3 separate regions of the Homo sapiens genome follow, and regions 1 and 3 are each linked to region 2. Evidence: fine-mapped expression QTL. A gene starts in region 2. Each other region holds a variant in brackets. All regions are shown on one strand. Distances are between the middles of the regions. Region 1 holds the start of MINDY1 (MINDY lysine 48 deubiquitinase 1). Region 2 holds the start of ADAMTSL4 (ADAMTS like 4). Region 3 overlaps LOC124904410 (a long non-coding RNA gene).

The links. PIP is the estimated chance that this variant, and not a neighbour inherited with it, causes the effect.
Region 1: its variant is fine-mapped to the expression of ADAMTSL4 in whole blood (INTERVAL, PIP above 0.99).
Region 3: its variant is fine-mapped to the expression of ADAMTSL4 in cerebellum (GTEx, PIP 0.95).

What each region holds. Positions count from the first base shown.
Region 1 is chr1:151,002,080-151,007,612 of GRCh38, forward strand. MINDY1 (MINDY lysine 48 deubiquitinase 1) reads right to left here and starts at 4,823. Exons shown (of 10, transcript NM_001376665.1): 1 at 4,233-4,823; 2 at 86-627. The coding sequence starts at 538. RefSeq lists enhancers at 4,059-4,318, 4,549-4,728. The variant AAAAAT/A (reference allele first, on the strand shown) is at 2,652.
Region 2 is chr1:150,546,943-150,552,475 of GRCh38, forward strand. ADAMTSL4 (ADAMTS like 4) reads left to right here and starts at 2,466. Exons shown (of 19, transcript NM_019032.6): 1 at 2,466-2,557; 2 at 2,880-2,953; 3 at 5,263-5,366. The coding sequence starts at 5,347. LOC124904417 reads left to right here and starts at 3,348. Exons shown (of 1, transcript XM_047438226.1): 1 at 3,348-4,408. The coding sequence starts at 3,348. The coding sequence ends at 4,118. ADAMTSL4-AS2 (ADAMTSL4 antisense RNA 2) reads right to left here. Exons shown (of 6, transcript NR_187269.1): 6 at 1,622-1,808. MIR4257 (microRNA 4257) reads left to right here and starts at 4,987; the gene lies at 4,987-5,072. RefSeq lists silencers at 1,651-1,945, 1,877-2,026, 2,197-2,336 and enhancers at 3,672-4,361, 4,851-5,533.
Region 3 is chr1:149,585,955-149,591,487 of GRCh38, forward strand. The region is part of intron 1 of LOC124904410 (a long non-coding RNA gene); the gene reads left to right. Among named protein-coding and RNA genes, the nearest start is that of PPIAL4C, 4.9 kb to the left of the region's middle. The variant G/A (reference allele first, on the strand shown) is at 2,923.

The DNA of each region.
Region 1 (5,533 bases), 460 kb after region 2:
TGAGGACATCAGGATGATCAAGGAAGTAAGTCAGGGAAGAGTACTCCCTGATATTTTTTGCACCCCTAACTGCATGTTCTCTTACCTTCCACTGAAGAAAGAGGATGTTCATGATGGCAAGGAGAGGGCAAGGGCCGTTAGTGCTCTGGGTGATGATGGGTGTCTGTTCTCCTTTCCAAGGGATCCACTTGACACAGTAGAAATCTGGCTCAGGCTGTCGGGTCCTGGGGGACTGAGGAAGCTCCTGGGGCATGGAGCATGCCCTTATTGTCTCTACTTCAGGCAGTGTCCCAAGGGTTGGCCCCGGTGGAGCTGAGCTAGCTTCAGGCAGAGGGGACTCAAGGTTGTCCCCACACTGGCTAGGCAGCAAAGCTTGGTCTGCTGGCTCCCGTTCTCTAGCCTCCCCATCAGCATCTCTTGCATCTGTGTCCTGAGGGTGCTCATCTGGGCCTGCCAGAACCTCATGGTTTTCAGGGATGACTGCTTCTGCAGTCCCGGCCTTACCAGGGGCTGGATCCTCAGGCTGATGGTATTCCATGGTCAAAAGGGACTTGGCTGAGGGGCACTGAAGGTGTTTACTAACCTCAGGGACTTGCCTAAGCCAGGCTTGGGATGCAAAAGAGTGACCTGTCCAATAAGAAGGAAATCAGTGGGCTGGAAAGCAAACTAACCCAGAAAAGTCTTGGAAAAGGAATGTAGTGTAGAAGGCTGGCTAGTGTTTGTGCAGTAACTCCTGGCTATGGGCAGTATATGTGTAAACAGAAGGGCCCCGTGCTGAGCTCTTTCCACCTCTAACTTGCTGTGACCAGATGAGACCAAGAGGTCGTGGGGCTTCCAGACTTGGGAGGGAAGACTGGTGGGATTGAACACATGGGTGGAGTCAGCTTCCCTGAAACAGATCATGACAGGGAAGGGAGGAAAGACAGAGAGAAAGGGAGAGCACAAAGGAGAAAGAAGGATAAGAGGTGGAGAAAGAAATGTTAAATCTACGCTAATGGTTATTAATATGATGATCTTTAGCTTACTCTAATAGGCATCACATCAGTAACCCCCTCATAGCCATGACAGAGATAATTCCTCTGCCCTACCCCACACCCTGCCCCTTCACACAACATACTAAGAATACACAGTGCTTGTATGTTTAGGGATACCTTCTCTCTGCCTCACCCAAGGATAAAAAGATTAAGTCACATAGTACTTGGGGTGAAGAATGGAGGAGGCACAGAGAGTCAGTTTCATGCCCCTAAAGGTGAAATGCTGGTGAGGAAGGGGAAGTCTTCCACCTCAAAGGGCTCTACTGAACCTTACACAATCCCAAACCACAGTATAAAGGCCTTGGGAGGGGTTTCCTGTAAGCTGGGAGGGGAAATGTAGGTGGTGGGGGCTGGAATCAGAGACTGGTTTTGATAAATAACTTCAGATTAGGGGCACAAAAAGCACTCCCCACAAGTTCTTCCAGTAAGCTTCTCTTTAAAAAAAATTAATAAAGATATCAAATTTCTTTTAATTAAACTGAGACAGGGTCTTGCTTTGTTGCCTAGGCTGGTCTTAACTCCTGGGGGCCCAAGCAATCCGCCCTCCTCAGCCTGCCAAAGGACTGGGATTACAGGCATGAGCCACGGTGCCTGGACCCAGTAAGCATCTCTTGACAGCTAGCATTGAGACAGCAACTTTTCCTCAGTTCATTTTTTTTCCCCAGAAACTACCTAAACCCAGAGGTACTCTCTTGCCTGCTATTTCTATGAAATATGAAAATGCTGATTATTAATTTACATAACAATACTTCCTGTACATTCACCTACCTAAAGTTTTATGTCTATTCCCATCCAAGTGGTTTTATTTATTTATTTTTATTTTTTTGAGACAGAGTTTTGCTCTTGTTGCCTAGGTTGGAGTGCAATGGTGCGACCTCGGCTCACTGCAACCTCTGCCTCCTGGGTTCAAGTGATTCTCCTGCCTCAGCCTCCCGAGTAGCTGGGATTACAGGCATGCAACACCATGCCCAGCTAATTTTGTATTTTTTAGTAGAGATGGAGTTTCTCCATGTTGGTCAGGCTGGTCTTGAACTTCCGACCTCAGGTGATCCTCCCACCTTGGCCTCCCAAAGTGCTGGGATTACAGGCATGAGCCACCGTGCCCAGTCCTCTCCAGGTCATTTTAGATGTGAACACCGGACCTGTTTAACCTGTTCTCTATCAGCACTGGAGGCACATTGAGGCAAGCACAGATAGACATTTAACTAATACTGTGGGTATAAATAATAAAAAACCACAAATCCTGCCCTTTGGAAAACATCTCCCTTCAATCTCCTTGCTCCCCTCCCACTCTTTATCAGGGAGAGAAACAGGGAGAAATTAAACTAGTTAGGGGCCAGGCGCGGTGGCTCACGCCTGTAATCCCAGCACTTTGAGAGGCTGAGGCGGGCAGATTACTTGAGGTCAGGAGATCGAGACCATCCTGGCTAACATGGCAAAACGCTGTCTGTATTGAAAGTACAAAAATTAGCCAGGTGTGTTGGCACGTGCCTGTAGTCACAGCTGCTCGGGAGGCTGAGGTGGGAGAATTGCTTGAACCTGGGAGGCAGGGGGTTGCAGTGAGCTGAGATGGTGACACTGCACTACAGCCTGGGTGACAGAGCGAAACTCCATCTC[AAAAAT/A]AAAATAAAATAAAATAAAATAAAATAAAATAAAATAAAATAAAATAAAATAAATTAAACTAGTTAGAAATCTTGTCTTTTCTCCACCCTCCTCCCAGCCTGAGACTGCTTCCTTCTTGTAAACCTACAGGAATTTGGGGCTAGGGGAAGGCCTGGGAGATGAGGTTGAGGAACATTAAAGTTACTGAAACAAAATAAGCCTAGTCACTCAAATTGATTATCCTCTTGATTCACATATGTTTATGCTAGCTGCATATCATTTACGTGTTGTTAATTTAGAATCAGAGTAGCAAAAATTGCCTGCAGGCCTTATGCTTTTTTTTCTCTCTCTTTCTCTCTCTCCTTTCCTTCTCCCCTTAAATGACACTTAGGGTGAACCTCAAAGCAGATGCCAGAGCCTGGAAAAGTGAAAAAGCTTGAAGAAAAGCAGGCCTTGGCCGGGCACAGTGCCTCACACCTGTATCCCAGCACTTTGAGAGGCCGAGGCGGGCGGATCACCTGAGGTCAGGAGCTCAAGATCGGCCTGGCTAACATGGCGAAACCCCATCTCTACTAAAAATACAAAAATTAGCCGGGCACGGTGGCGGGCACCTGTAATCCCAGCTACTCAGGAGGCTGAGGCAGGAGAATTGCTTGAACCCCGGAGGTGGAGGTTGCAGTAAGCCAAGATTGTGCCTCTGCACTCCAGCCTGGGTGACAAGAGTGAGACTCTTGCCTCCAAAAAAAAAAAGAAAAAAAGAAAAAAAAAAAAGAAAAGCAGGCCTTATTTTTTATATTTTCTCTCCAGTGCCAGAAATGATCAATGATGAAGTGGGGGTTGGGCAGCTAGCTGGCTGGAGAGGTGAGCCAAAGGAACCCAGGAGTGGACACCTGAGGGAGTGGGGTCTCAGAGGAACTGGGCAGAGCTAAATGGGCTAAGTCTTAAGAGGCAGGGGCAGGAAATGTAATGGAGGCTTTCTACTCTACAACGTCCAATCCTGCTGGGGAGGGCATGGAGTATTTCAGAGTAGGAAAGAATGAGGGAGAGGATAGTCAGATAAATCAAAGTTTCATTCTTTTCCTCCTCTTTCTTAGCTCGTCAAATCCTACACTTTCTCTCCAGCTGGAATTATGGTGGTGAGTGAGGGAGTTAAAATAATCCTGGCTCCTCCCTAATCAATGGCAGTAGAGAGCCGAAAGTTGGAAGAAGCACGTAAAACAGGTATGTAGCTTCAAGAAGACACTCCTTCTCTGTAGGAACAGTTCCCTTACTGTCTCACACCAATCTCCTTCTTAGTCTGACCTATGTCTTTGTGCAATCAATAGTTTAGATTTTCATCTCAGAATATGTCAACCATGGCCACAGTGCCCTGTATACTTGCTCACAAGGAGAGGGGGAAGGTTTCGTGCTTTCATTAAAAGGAGGAGGACCAAGCAGCATCCCCTTTACATGTCTCTCCTGACTTAGCTCCTCTAAGCAATCCAGACTTGCAGACCAAAGGTGGAAGGACAGCAGGTGTCAGCTCCCCAAAGCTGGAGAGGAAATAGAGAAGGGTGGGAGAAGAGGTGAAGAAGATGATTAAAATAAAGTTTTTACCTTAAAGAAGGGGGTGCTGTTCCAAGATTGAGAAGGAGGGTTCAGCCGTGGCAATGAGATGGGGGAGATAGGTGCAATGAAGGGGGCTGCCAGTGCCAGCTGCCTTCCAGCTGTCAACGCCTGAGCTTATACAGGTTTACACAGCTTTATAAGCGACGGTCCAGGCTGGGTTGTGGCCACTTCCGGACTCACGCCCAGTACTGGGGGCACTGGAGGAGGGTGAAGGCAGGCAGGGACACAGCCAAGGTGCTCCAGGTCGCTCAGAGAGTCTTCAGGATTCCTGAGTCGCCGAGTCTATGGCATGCGCTCCGGGCCCTGACTACAAGCTGGTTTTCAAAGGAAGTTTGTGGTTTTTCTTTTCTTCTCTCTCTCTTTTTTGTTCTCATCAGGACGAAGAAAAATTAGGCAAGGACAAGCTCCCTGGAGGAGGAGGGGCCTGCCCAGCGCTGGTGGATTTCCATCAGGACTTTCTGACCCGGTCAGCAGCTTTGTGATCAGCAGAGAGGGAGCGAGAAACAGGAGAGAAAAACAACAGACCCTTTCTCTTCCCTCTGCCTGCCTCTAGAAGGGACGGAGCGCTTGTGCCTCTCTGGTGAGAATAGGGAAGAGCAAGTGCCCTTGCTAAGTAGGGAGGAGAAGGGCTGGACAGAAGCAGCTTGTTGGATCTGGGCTCTCTCTCTGGGTATGGCAGTCCTTTGCTCTGGATCCACAGAAGCAGGAGCAAAGAGCACGATATTTGCATGTATTACTCAATTAATGTTAAAAACAAACAAACAAACCCAGCTCTTTTCCCTCTGGAGCCCTCCAGAGAGCTCCTTTCCAAGTCCTTGCTGTATCATTTTTAAGTCTAGAAATGAAACTGGTTGGGTTGTGCACCTGGTAGAGTGCAGAGGGTGTGGTAGAAGCCCCAGGCTCTGGGCGCGATGGCTGACGCCTGTAATCCCAGCACTTTGGGAAGCCAAGGCGGGCGGATCACAAGGTCAAGAGATCAAGACCAACCTGGCCAACATAGTGAAACCCCATCTCTACTAAAAATACAAAAATTAGCAGGGCATGGTGGCACATGCCTGTAGTCCCAGCTACTCGGGAGGCTGAGGCAGGAGAATCGCTTGAACCCGGGAGGTGGAGGTTGCAGTGAGCCAAGATCCTGCCACTGCACTCCAGCCTGAAGACGGAGCAAGACTCCGTCTCAAAAAGAAGAAGAAGAAGAAAAGAACTGGCAGAGCAGGCAGGAGATCCAACACGCCTGTGCTCTGGATCTTGGTTCCACTGCAGGCCTCTCATCAGTCACCTCCTCTCGA
Region 2 (5,533 bases):
AGAAATTTTAAAATATCCAGGTTTTAAAATACGTATTGACAAGTTATTTAAAAAAAAAAAATGTGCCTTTAGGTTGGGCCCAGTGGCTCACACATGTAATCCCGGCATTTTAGGAGCCCAAGGAAGGAGGATTTCTTGAGCCCAGGAGTTTGAAACTAGCCTGTCTTAAAAACAAAAAACAAACAAACAAAAACCTTTAAAACACTGAGTAGACCCAACAAAATACAACGCGTCAGTAAATAGAAAGTAAAAATATAGGCCGGGAGCAGTGGCTCATGTCTGTAATCCCAGCACTTTGGGAGGCTGAGGCGGACGGATCATGAGGTCAGGAGTTCGAGACCAGCCTGGCCAACATGGTGAAACCCCATCTCTACTAAAGATACAAAAAATTAGCCAGGCGTGGTGGCTCGTGCCTGCAATCCCACCTACTCAGGAGGCTGAGGCAGGAGAATGGCTTGAACCCAGGAGGCAGAGGTTGCAGTGAGCTGAGATGGCGCCATTGCACTCCAGCCTGGGTGACAGGACAAGACTCCTTCTCAAAAAAAAAAAAGTAAAATATAAAAATAGCAGTGACCATTTATTGTCTACTCTATGCCAGCCATTTTACATATTTTATTTATTTATGTGTTTATTTTTTGAGACGAGGTCTCTCTCTGTCGCAGGGGCTGGAGTGCAGTGGCACGATCATAGTTCACTGCAGCCTCAAACTCCTGGGCTCAAGCAATCCTCCCCGCTCAGCCTCCTGAGTAGCTAGGACTACAGGCTTTCACCACCATGCCCAGCTTACATATATTATTTATAATAAATAATAGCCAGGCGCGGTGGCTCACGCCTATAATCCCAGAACTTTGGGAGGCCGAGGCAGGAGGATCACTTGAGGTCGGGAGTTGGAGGCTAGCCTGACTAACATGGAGAAATCCCGTCTCTACTAAAAAATATAAAATAAGCCAGGCATGGTGGCGCATGCCTCTAATCCCAGCTACTTGGGAGGCTGAGGCAGGAGAATCACTTGAACCTGGGAGGCGGAGGTTGCAGTGAGCCGAGATCGCGCCACTGCACTCCAGCCTGGGCAACAAGAGTGAAACTCCATCTCAAAAAAAAAAAGAAAAAAAAAAGATAAAACTAATAGATGGATTGCTCTTGTGGTTAAAAAAATTCACAAAAATAACATTACATAGCTGGGTGCGGTGGCTCACGCCTGTAATCCCAGCACTTTGGGAGGCCGAGGCGGACGGATCACGAGGTCAGGAGATCGAGACCATTCTGGCTAACACGATGAAACCCCGTCTCTACTAAAAATACAAAAAATTAGCCGGGCGTGGTGGCAGACGCCTGTAGTCCCAGCTACTCAGGAGGCTAGGGCAGGAGAATGGCGTGAACCTGGGAGGCGGAGCTTGCAGTGAGCCAAGATAGCACCACTGCACTCCAGCCTGGACGACAGAGTGAGACTCCGTCTCAAAAAAAATAAATAAATAATAATATAATAATAATAAACATAACGCAGAGTAAAAAGCAAAAGCCTTTTTCAGTCCTCCCCCAACCCTGCATCCCTCCCCAGATGTCACCAATACTACTGAGTTTGGGGTGCATTCTTCCATGTATAAATGCATAAAGAGACATATCCAAGCCCATCATATATATTAGATTAGTCCCATTTTGCAGATGAGCAAACTGCACCACACAGGGGTGGAAGTATTCGTCGAAGACCACATAGCTGGCAAGAGCTGGAGCTGAGGTTCAAATCCAGATCAGTCTGACTCAGAAGTCAGCACGCTGTCCTTTCGCTGAGTCCCGAGTGTAAAACCTTACTGAGGAAAAAAACCGAAGCTCATAGAAGTCCCAGCAATCTGAACCACCACTGCCCAACACGGGAGAGGCAGGAGTGACTGAGTTTGCAGGGGAGGCTGCGTGGAGGGGAGAGCCTGGACCCACGCGGATCGGGGGCCGCGGGTACCTCCGTCCAGGGCGCTTCCCTCCCGGACCAGCGGCTCTCCCAGGCCGCCTCGCTCCAGGCGCCCCTGGAGGCTGCCCCGCCTGTGCCGCGCCGCGCCGCGCCGTGTTCGCACCGCTCACCCGAGCGGCTCGGAGGCCCGGGTTGCTTAAGTCCCTAGTCTCAGCCGGGCACGAGGACAGCGCCCGGGAGCGACTGCAGCCTCTGACCCCGGCTGGGCCAGCCCGGGCTGCTTAAGTCCCTAGTCTCGGCCGGGCACGAGGACAGCGCCCGGGAGCGACTGCAGCCTCCGACCCCGGCTGGGCCAGCCCGGGCTTCAGCTCACGCAGCCGTCGGGGGGCGCCCGGCGCGCAGCCCGGGGTGGGTGGTCCTGGCGAGTGGGGCTGCGAGGCAGACCGGCCCCACCCCGGGGCCGCCGAGGGGCGCGGGCTGGGGCGCGTGGCGGGCGGGGCTGGGCGGGGGCGGGCGCGAGGGCGGAGTTGCGGCCGAGGCGGCCGTGACCGGAGCGCGGCTCAGGGGCCCCAGTGGCCGCCGCGGAGCGAGGTTGCCTGGAGAGAGCGCCTGGGCGCAGAAGGGTTAACGGGCCACCGGGGGCTCGCAGAGCAGGTAGAGACCTCCCCGGGACCCCGGCCCCGGCCGCCCCTCTCCCGGGTCCCGTTAGACCGCCCGCCCCGCGCGCCCGCGTCGTCCCCTCTCCCTGCGCTGTGCGGTCGCGACCCCGCCACGACCCCGGACCCAGCTCCGGTGGCCTCGGACAATCTTCCAGCCCCTGGGGTCGAATTCCTGGGGAGGGAGTCTGATCCCGTGGAACTCTGGCCCCATCACCCGGGCGGGGAGTGAACCAAAATTCCTCCTAAGTCACATAGTAAAGTTGGAAAACAGACCCATGACCTCCCCGCGCGGCCGGTGCCTCCTGCCCTCTCTCTAGGAGGGTGCTCTCGGACGGTGTGTCCCCCACTGCACTCCTGAACTTGGAGGACAGGGTCGCCGCGAGGGACGCAGGTGGGTGCCCTTGATCCAGCTCAGCCCGATGGCAGAAGAGGTTGACAAAAAAGAAAGACACCTGTTGGGGTGGCCTGCCAGACCCAGGAGTGGAGGGCTCTGAGGGCCCGGGAATTCGGACTCAGGACAGGGATTCTCCATGGCTAGGCCCAGAAACACAGGGTCCAACCACTCTCCAGCAGGGAGACCTGGGGGTGAAGGGGTGAGCCCTGCGCAGGTCTCTGTTCCTTGGTCTTCACTGGGCAGTGTGGAGAGGTGTGGCCAGGAGGAGCCCGCGTTTGTCCAGACCAGGGTCTACTCTGGCACCAGAGTGACCACCTCTGACCTCTCCTTTCCTCGTCCTGGGCCGGGAACGACACCAAATGAGGGACATGGAAAGGGGTGAGAAGCATAAATGTGCGTGTGTTTCTGCAGAGGAGGGGGCATGGGCCCCTGCCGGGCTGCGCAGGGGAGGGTGGGGTGGGACTTTTCCAGAGAGGGAGCCAGGCCTGGCCCGGGCCCCGGGAGCTCACGTCACCCCCACCCCTCACTTCTCCAGGGAACTGCCAAAGCCAAACCCAGCTCGGGATGGGATTATGTGTACTGGGTAGACCCGTGGAGAGGGGCTGCGAGAAGAGATCTCGGTGGCAGAGAGAAGCAGAGGCAGAGAGGGCATGAAGAGGGGTCGGCATCAGAGAAGGGGCAGGCAGTGACTATCACCCCATTTCTTCTTCCCTCAGCTGGAGTAACAAGAGTCAGGCAGAGCCTGAAGACTTGGGTGGAACATGGGCCCTTCTCTGGAGATCCTGGCCTCCCCCGTTCAGTCAGGGTGGAGTTGCTGACCTTAGTGGCCGGCCCAGCCAGGGGAAGGAGTGGCCATCGGCAACCCCCACCCCAACCCCAATCCCTGAGGCGCCCGCTCTGGCTCAGCCACTCTGACCCCTCCCTCAAATTCCGAACCCTAGGTCTCAGGGAGGGCAGTGGGGCTGAGTGTCTGCCCCCAGGCACATTCCTACCCTTCTCTTGGTCATTTTCTGCCCCAGAGCTGGCCCACCTCAGCAATGCGAGGGCTCCCTGGATTCCTCTCCCGGGTGCCTTTCAGATCCAACAGAAACAGATTTTTTTTTTCCTGGAAAGCAGAACTAAGAGTGGGATGAGGAGCAGGGGTGGGAAGGACTCAAAGTGAGAAGAAGGGGGCAAAGAGAGTCAGGCTTGGTGGCTGGGGTGGCTTCCAAGCCTCACTTCTCCAGTGTTCAAAGCTGAACTTCAGATGGACTTCCCGGCTCTTCAGAATGAGAGGCCTGTGGCTGGGGCATGAGGCAGCCCCGGCTGCACCTCTCCTTCCCGCTTCCCCAGCTGGTAGAGACGCACAGGAAACAAGCCCTCACTGAACCAACTCCAGATGCTGGCACCCAGAGTGGGTGTTACATTGCCGGCTTCTTCTCTAGAGATTAAACCGTCAACCCATTTAGCTTATCCCTTGGCCAAAAAGTGTATGAGATGTGCCTGGATGTTCCCTAAAGAGCTTATCTAAGAAGGGAAGAGAAAGCCGGGAGGCAAGTAGGACAGAGAGATGACTGGGGAAGGTCTTGTGTCTGGAAGACCCAAGGAAGGGGCTTCTGGTGGGTCCTCAGAGAGAGTGTCTGGCGCATCCTCAGTGGAGCCTTCCTCCTCTACTTTCTAGGCACCTCTGGGAGGGCAGGAGTGGGAGCAGATGACAACCATTTTAGAAGGAGCCCTCTGGCTGGGTGCGGTGGCTCACACCTGTCATCCCAGCACTTTGGGAGGCCAAGGCAGGAGAAGCGCTTGAGGCCTGGAGTTCAAGACCAGCCTGTGCAATTTAGCTGGATCCCATCTCCACCAAAAAATACCAAAATTAGCTGGGTGTGGTGGTGCACGCATGTAGTCCCACCTACTCAGGAGGCTGAGGAAGGAGAGCCTGTGAGTTTGAGGCTGCAATGAGCTTTGGTGGCACCACTGCCCTCCAGCCTGGATGACAGAGTGAGATCTCCATCTCAAAAAAAAAAAAAAAGCCTTTTGTGTGTGCCTGAGCCGGCTTAGAAACAGTCCCTAGGTAGGATTTGGGGAGGAGCTAAGAAGCCCCTACAGGGCCCAGAGGTGGGGACTGAGCCTTAGTTGGAGGGCTGAGGTCAGCCCCTGACCATGTAGCCTCTACAGATGGACAAGGCAGTGATCCTCCCTGCTCCCACCCTGAGGATCCTAAAGGGATGGACCAGTTTCACCCCCTCCTCCATATTCTCTGAGCTGTCCTCCCAGCCCCAAGCTCTCTGGACACTGGAGAGGTAACCACCAGGCTTCTGTCCCTGCAGAGAGCACCCTCCACGCCCAGATGCCTGCGTAGTTTTTGTGACCAGTCCGCTCCTGCCTCCCCCTGGGGCAGTAGAGGGGGAGCGATGGAGAACTGGACTGGCAGGTGAGAGAAGGGGCCACGGGTTGGGGGGGAGGAAAAGGGGAGGTGCTGGGATGGCTCTGTGTCTGGAAGTGAGGGAAAGGGGACCACTGGGAGGGGCAGGGGAAGTGATGAGTAACTTCTGCTTTCTGAGAAGTTGGTAGTCAGGATATGGGAGCCGGCTGGGGGCG
Region 3 (5,533 bases), 960 kb before region 2:
AGTTCTACAAGTTCCCCACTATTTCTGTGATAAACCTATTTATTGTTAATGTCAGCCATAATTGGCTTCTGTGGTTTATATTTTTTAAAATTCCAAGATATACCAGCGTAACAGATAGCTCAACAAACATATGTCTTTTTAAATTAAGATATATTCTGTGTCACATGAAGTACAATGGACAAAATGCAACAAATTGAATTGAGCTAAAGACCAAATATATATTAAGCCTGGCTGGTCTTAAAAATGTAACTGGATACAGCCAGGCATGGTGGCTCACGCCTATAATCCCAGCACTTTGGGATCCTGAGGTGGGCAGATCACCTGAAGTCAGGAGTTTGAGACCAGCCTGGCCAGCATGGTGAAACCCCATCTCTACTAAAAATGCAAAAATTAGCTGGGTGTGGTGGTATGCCCCTGTAATCCCAGCTACTGGGGAGGTTGAGGCAGGAGAATCACTTGAACCTGGGAGGCAGAGGTTGCAGTGAGCCGAGATCATGCCAATGCACTCCAGCTTTGGCAACAGAGTGAGACTTTGTTTCAAAATAAAAAAATAAAAATAAAAAAATAAAAATGTAACTGGATAGACCTAAGGTTCTTGAATAAGCAGAAAATAATTTAGGTAAAAACCAAATAATAAACTAACATTCTGAAAGGTTTAGGATTTGGAGGCCCAAATGTCTTAGCTAAAAGTGTTCATTCTAACCTCACAGGAAAATTGAAATATGAAAATATACAGAAAAATCTTAGGCAGTATATGTCAATTTTAAGAAACAACTATTTACAGGTTTTTCAACAGGCATTACATTAAAAATGAAATATGTAGTTAATAAATATGAAAACTGTGGATATAATCAACACATTTATTTTACTTCTTGAAGTGTTAACATGTGCTGTCTCAAATATCAACAGTGTACACGTGAGAAAAAACATTTTACATAGATTTTCTGCGACAGAAAACAGCATCTCATTAGACATCCCAAGTTTTTTCATTTGGAACACACACCCATTCCCCAGTATACTAGGGGTAATAATAATTTAAAGAGTTTAATTACTTTTTACTACTAGAAAACTAATTTTATGTTTGGCACAAATTTCTGAAATGATATTCCACTGCAAAGAATAATACCTATATATGGCCAGAATTACTTTTTTTCTATAACATTAAGATAATACTTGTCAGCCTGAGCAACAAAGTGAGACCTCATCTTTACAAAAAATAAATAAATTAGATGGGTGTTTTGGTGATGAGGGTCTGTAGTCCCAGATACTCAAGAGGCTGAGGTGGGAGGATCCCTTGAGCCTAGGAGGTTGCGGTTGCAGTGAACTATGATTGCACCACTGCACTCCAGCCTGGGTAACAGAGCAAGATCCTGTCTCAAAAAAAAAAAAAAAAAAGATAATATTGGTATAATTCAGGGTTTTTGCCTCAATCCCCATGCTTCTTCATTTGACCTTCCCTGACTCCCTGATGAATTTTAGTTTGAATTTTTGCTATAGTCCAGAAGTTAATTTAAAAGATCTTAAAATTTCCACCTGCCTAGATATTACTTATTTGTTACACTTTAGTCCATGATTTCTATTGTCATTTACATTACCCCAAAAATATGACCTGCTGAATTTCTGCTGTCATGAATTGACTAACATATTTTGGGCCTAATACCTTCACATTTAGAATGTTTTTGTTTTGTATTGGAAAATATTGTAAGTCCTCCATTTATTGGTCAAAAGCACTGCCTATTTATTTCCATGCTTAATCAGAGAGACTTTCTAATAGTTATTTAATATTATTTACGTTCATTCACTTGTTGACTATAATGACGTTAGTTGCTATGATATTTTTAGGTCATTAATATAATAAAAATATGTCAACTTTTCTCTTCCAATGTGTCTTTGGGTTATTAATTTTTAACTCAGGTATCAAGCTTGTAAAATGTTTAATGGCTTATAATAATGTCTAACACATAGTATCCACTGAGTTCTGATAACTCCGGTTTATCAAATTCTCTTTTTTTGTACCATTCTCCAAATGCAATGCTATTTGGTTTTATTTTTATTTTTTAAAAATGTGCTGCCTGTTTTGAGTCTCTAAAAGTGTGAAATGCTCAGCATTTCCCAAATGTATTTGAACATGGAGTGTTATATTTACTAAAAAGTTAACAAGCAAGTATTCCCCTAAACACTCTAGCAAATACTACTAGTACAGACAAATTATGATGTAACATTATAGTACATTTTAACTTATTAGGTTAATTTTGGTTGCAAACAATCAAAATTCAAAATGGCTTGTATAATAAAGAGATTTTGAACAATAGTATAGGCTCAAGATAGTTTAATGCAGAAGTTTAATAATGACACAAAATAAATGCTTCTTGTCCTCCCTGTTTCTTCACTCTACCTTAAGTGATATAGATTGAATGTTTGTAGTCCCCCAAAATTTGTATGTTTAAATCTAATCCCTAGTGTGATGATATTTGGCAGTGGGTCTTCGGGGGGTGATTAGGTCATGAGGACAGAGCCCTCATGAATGGGATTAGTGCCCTTATAAAAGAGACCTTAGAGAACTTCCTAGCCCCTTCCACCATGTGAGGACACAGCAAAAAGACAGCTGTCTGTGAACCAGGAAACAAATCCTCATTAGACCCTGAATCTGTTGACACCTTGATCTTGGACTTCCTGGCCTCTAGAACTGTAAGAAATAAATTTATGTTGTTCATAAACCATCCAGGCTGTGATATTCTGGTATAGCGACCTGAAAGGACTAAGACATTAGGTCTCAGTTTTATTCTATGGCTTAAAATATCATGTCATGAGTAGACAACTTCCAATCCTAGTACCTCGTGCTTCCTCTGCTGCATTTGGAAAGAAGGCATTTACCCCTTCAATCATGGAATGAAAAAGTTGTACTTCATTCTGATTTGATTA[G/A]CAGAAGGCACAGGTTCCTTCATGCACCAATTACAATGACCAAGAATTGGGCATGGGACTCATGTCACTTAAACATTGTGAAGCTGAGAAATTCATTATTTGGTTAGGAGTGTGTGAGAGCAGGGAACACTGAATGCTTGAGACACCACCACGATGTCCACTACATGTATTTCCATTTCAGTAAACATTTCCATTAAGATAATGCTAGAACAAAATCAGAGGAGTAGATCTTGGTGTCCCCAACTTTTGTTGACCTAACAAAGTGAAGTTGCTTCAACTGGACACTTCTGAACCACATTTATGCCTATATGTTCAGTTCAAATTTATTATAAGCAATTTTCAGGTCCATATGTTTAGGATATTTCATTTGTTTGGTTATGCATTATATGTATACATGTTTTTAACATACATACGCCTCTACATATATTTTGGAGGCCTTTACACAAAAGTGTTTTCCCTAAAGGGAGAAGAGAAAAGTTGAATGCAGAAGTAGAAAAAAAGATTCATTTGCACTTGTAGTATTTATAGCTAAATATTTTATATTACAGATGTATTAAAATTTTTATAATTTTAAACACTACTTTAAAACAGGGAGATGGTTTACCTTCAAAAAATTTGGCTCTCAACTCAAAGTTATCAAAGTATATCCTAGATGTAGTTTGCTTGTCAGGCTTCTACATGAAAATCTAAAATGCTCCTGCATTTCAGAATGAGCCTAACATATGTAATTGCACTCATCCACTATGTCTACATTGCCAACCAAATACTGACAGAGAGAGCTAGAGTGCCACAGAGAGCTGGCAGTTCCTCTGTTTGCATTAGCTTCTACTTGCTTCTTCATCTTTCCTCTATGTCTGACACATTTCATGTTACTGTTTTTAAATGTTCCCTTAGCTACAGAGCTAATGTGCTTATATCTGTAAGGGGTCTCATGTGAACCTCTAAATAATTAAAGATTCATTAGCTCCCTGGAGGGCCACCATGATTTCCAAAACAAGTCACAATACCTAAAGATCTAATTGTACAATTTCCCTCAGAAATAGCCTTGAGAAAGAAGTCACATCACTCAGCAATGAGTATTATAATTACTCACAGCAGTTTTCATGGTACTATATAACATCCAATTTACAGAATTAAAGGTAATGTAATTCGAAAGAAAAATAGCTGGTTTTAAGGAATGAAGGGCCATGTCAACTATTGGAAGCATCTTTGAACTGGAGCCTCTATGTTCGGGTTTCACCAGGTTTATGTTTTTAATTAATATCCTATTCAGCTTGCTGTAATTTCCATTGAGGTTTTCTAGAACAAGACAAGTCAGAAATTGATCTTTAATTATAAGCTAAGAGCAAACTGCCAAAGAACTGAGAGAAATTTTGAAGAAACAGGTCTATCAGGACTAACCATTTTAAGATAATAAAGACTAATCAGACACACACACATATGCACAAAAAGAGGGAGAGAGAGAACAAAAATCCTATGAAATACATTTTAAAAACTTAATTTTTTTAAGAAGAAGCATTTGATCTGCCAAAGAGAAGAGTTAGCAGTTTGGAGATCTGACATTGCTAATCTCAGGGCAAGAAAATAACAAAATAAGACACCAAAGAATTACCTAAACTGTGGAAGATGAAGCTTTCAGAGTTCTCACAGAGAGATGGGATACTAAAGTACCAAGTTTAAGAGGTGTAATCTATTAATGTTTAATTTATGTCCCAAATACTTAAAAACTATGTTTCATTGTTATACATATTTATTTTATTATAAAGATAATGAATGCAGTAGGGTTAGATTTAAATAATTCATTGGGTTTAAAATGAGAAATGAAAGTCTGGCTTTTTACAACCTACAGTCTTATCACCAAAGTTAGCTATTGTTAATAACTTCTTGTCCATTCTTGTATGTGTTATGGTTTCTTTCTTAGAAAGAAGTATGCTATACTAGTATACATGCTATTTATTCATGAACCTTGCACTTATCATGTAATCATATGTCTTAGTGGTCTTTTCATAATAGATGTCTCTCTTTCCCACGCTGTCAGTGGTGATTGCATGAGGCATTGTACAGACGTACCAATAATTACTTACTCTGTGTCATATTGTTGGTTATTCAGATTGTTTTCACTTTGTCCTTGCAGACAACACTGCAACGAACATACTTATGCATATCTTATTCCAAATACATCATCGTGATGGCTGTGTGAGAGAAATATACATTGTTGATTTTATTTTTTTATTTTTTATAATTTCAACTTTTGATTTTAGATACAGTGGGTACATGTGCAGGTTTGTTACATGGGTATGTTGTGTAATGCTGAGGTTTGCGGCATGATTGATCCGATCACTCAGGTACTAGACATAGTAGTTGTTTTTCAACCTTTACCCCCTCCCTCCTTCTACCCTCGAGTAGTCCCCAGTTTCTATTGTTCCCATCTTTGTGTCCACGTGTACTCAATGTTTAGCTCCTGCTTATAAGTGAGAATATGTGGTATTTGGTTTTCTATTCCTGTGTTAATTCGCTTAGCATAATGGCATCGAGTTGCATCCATGTTGCTGTAAAGGACATGATTTTATTCTTTTTTATGGCTGCAAAGTATTCCATGACATATATGTAC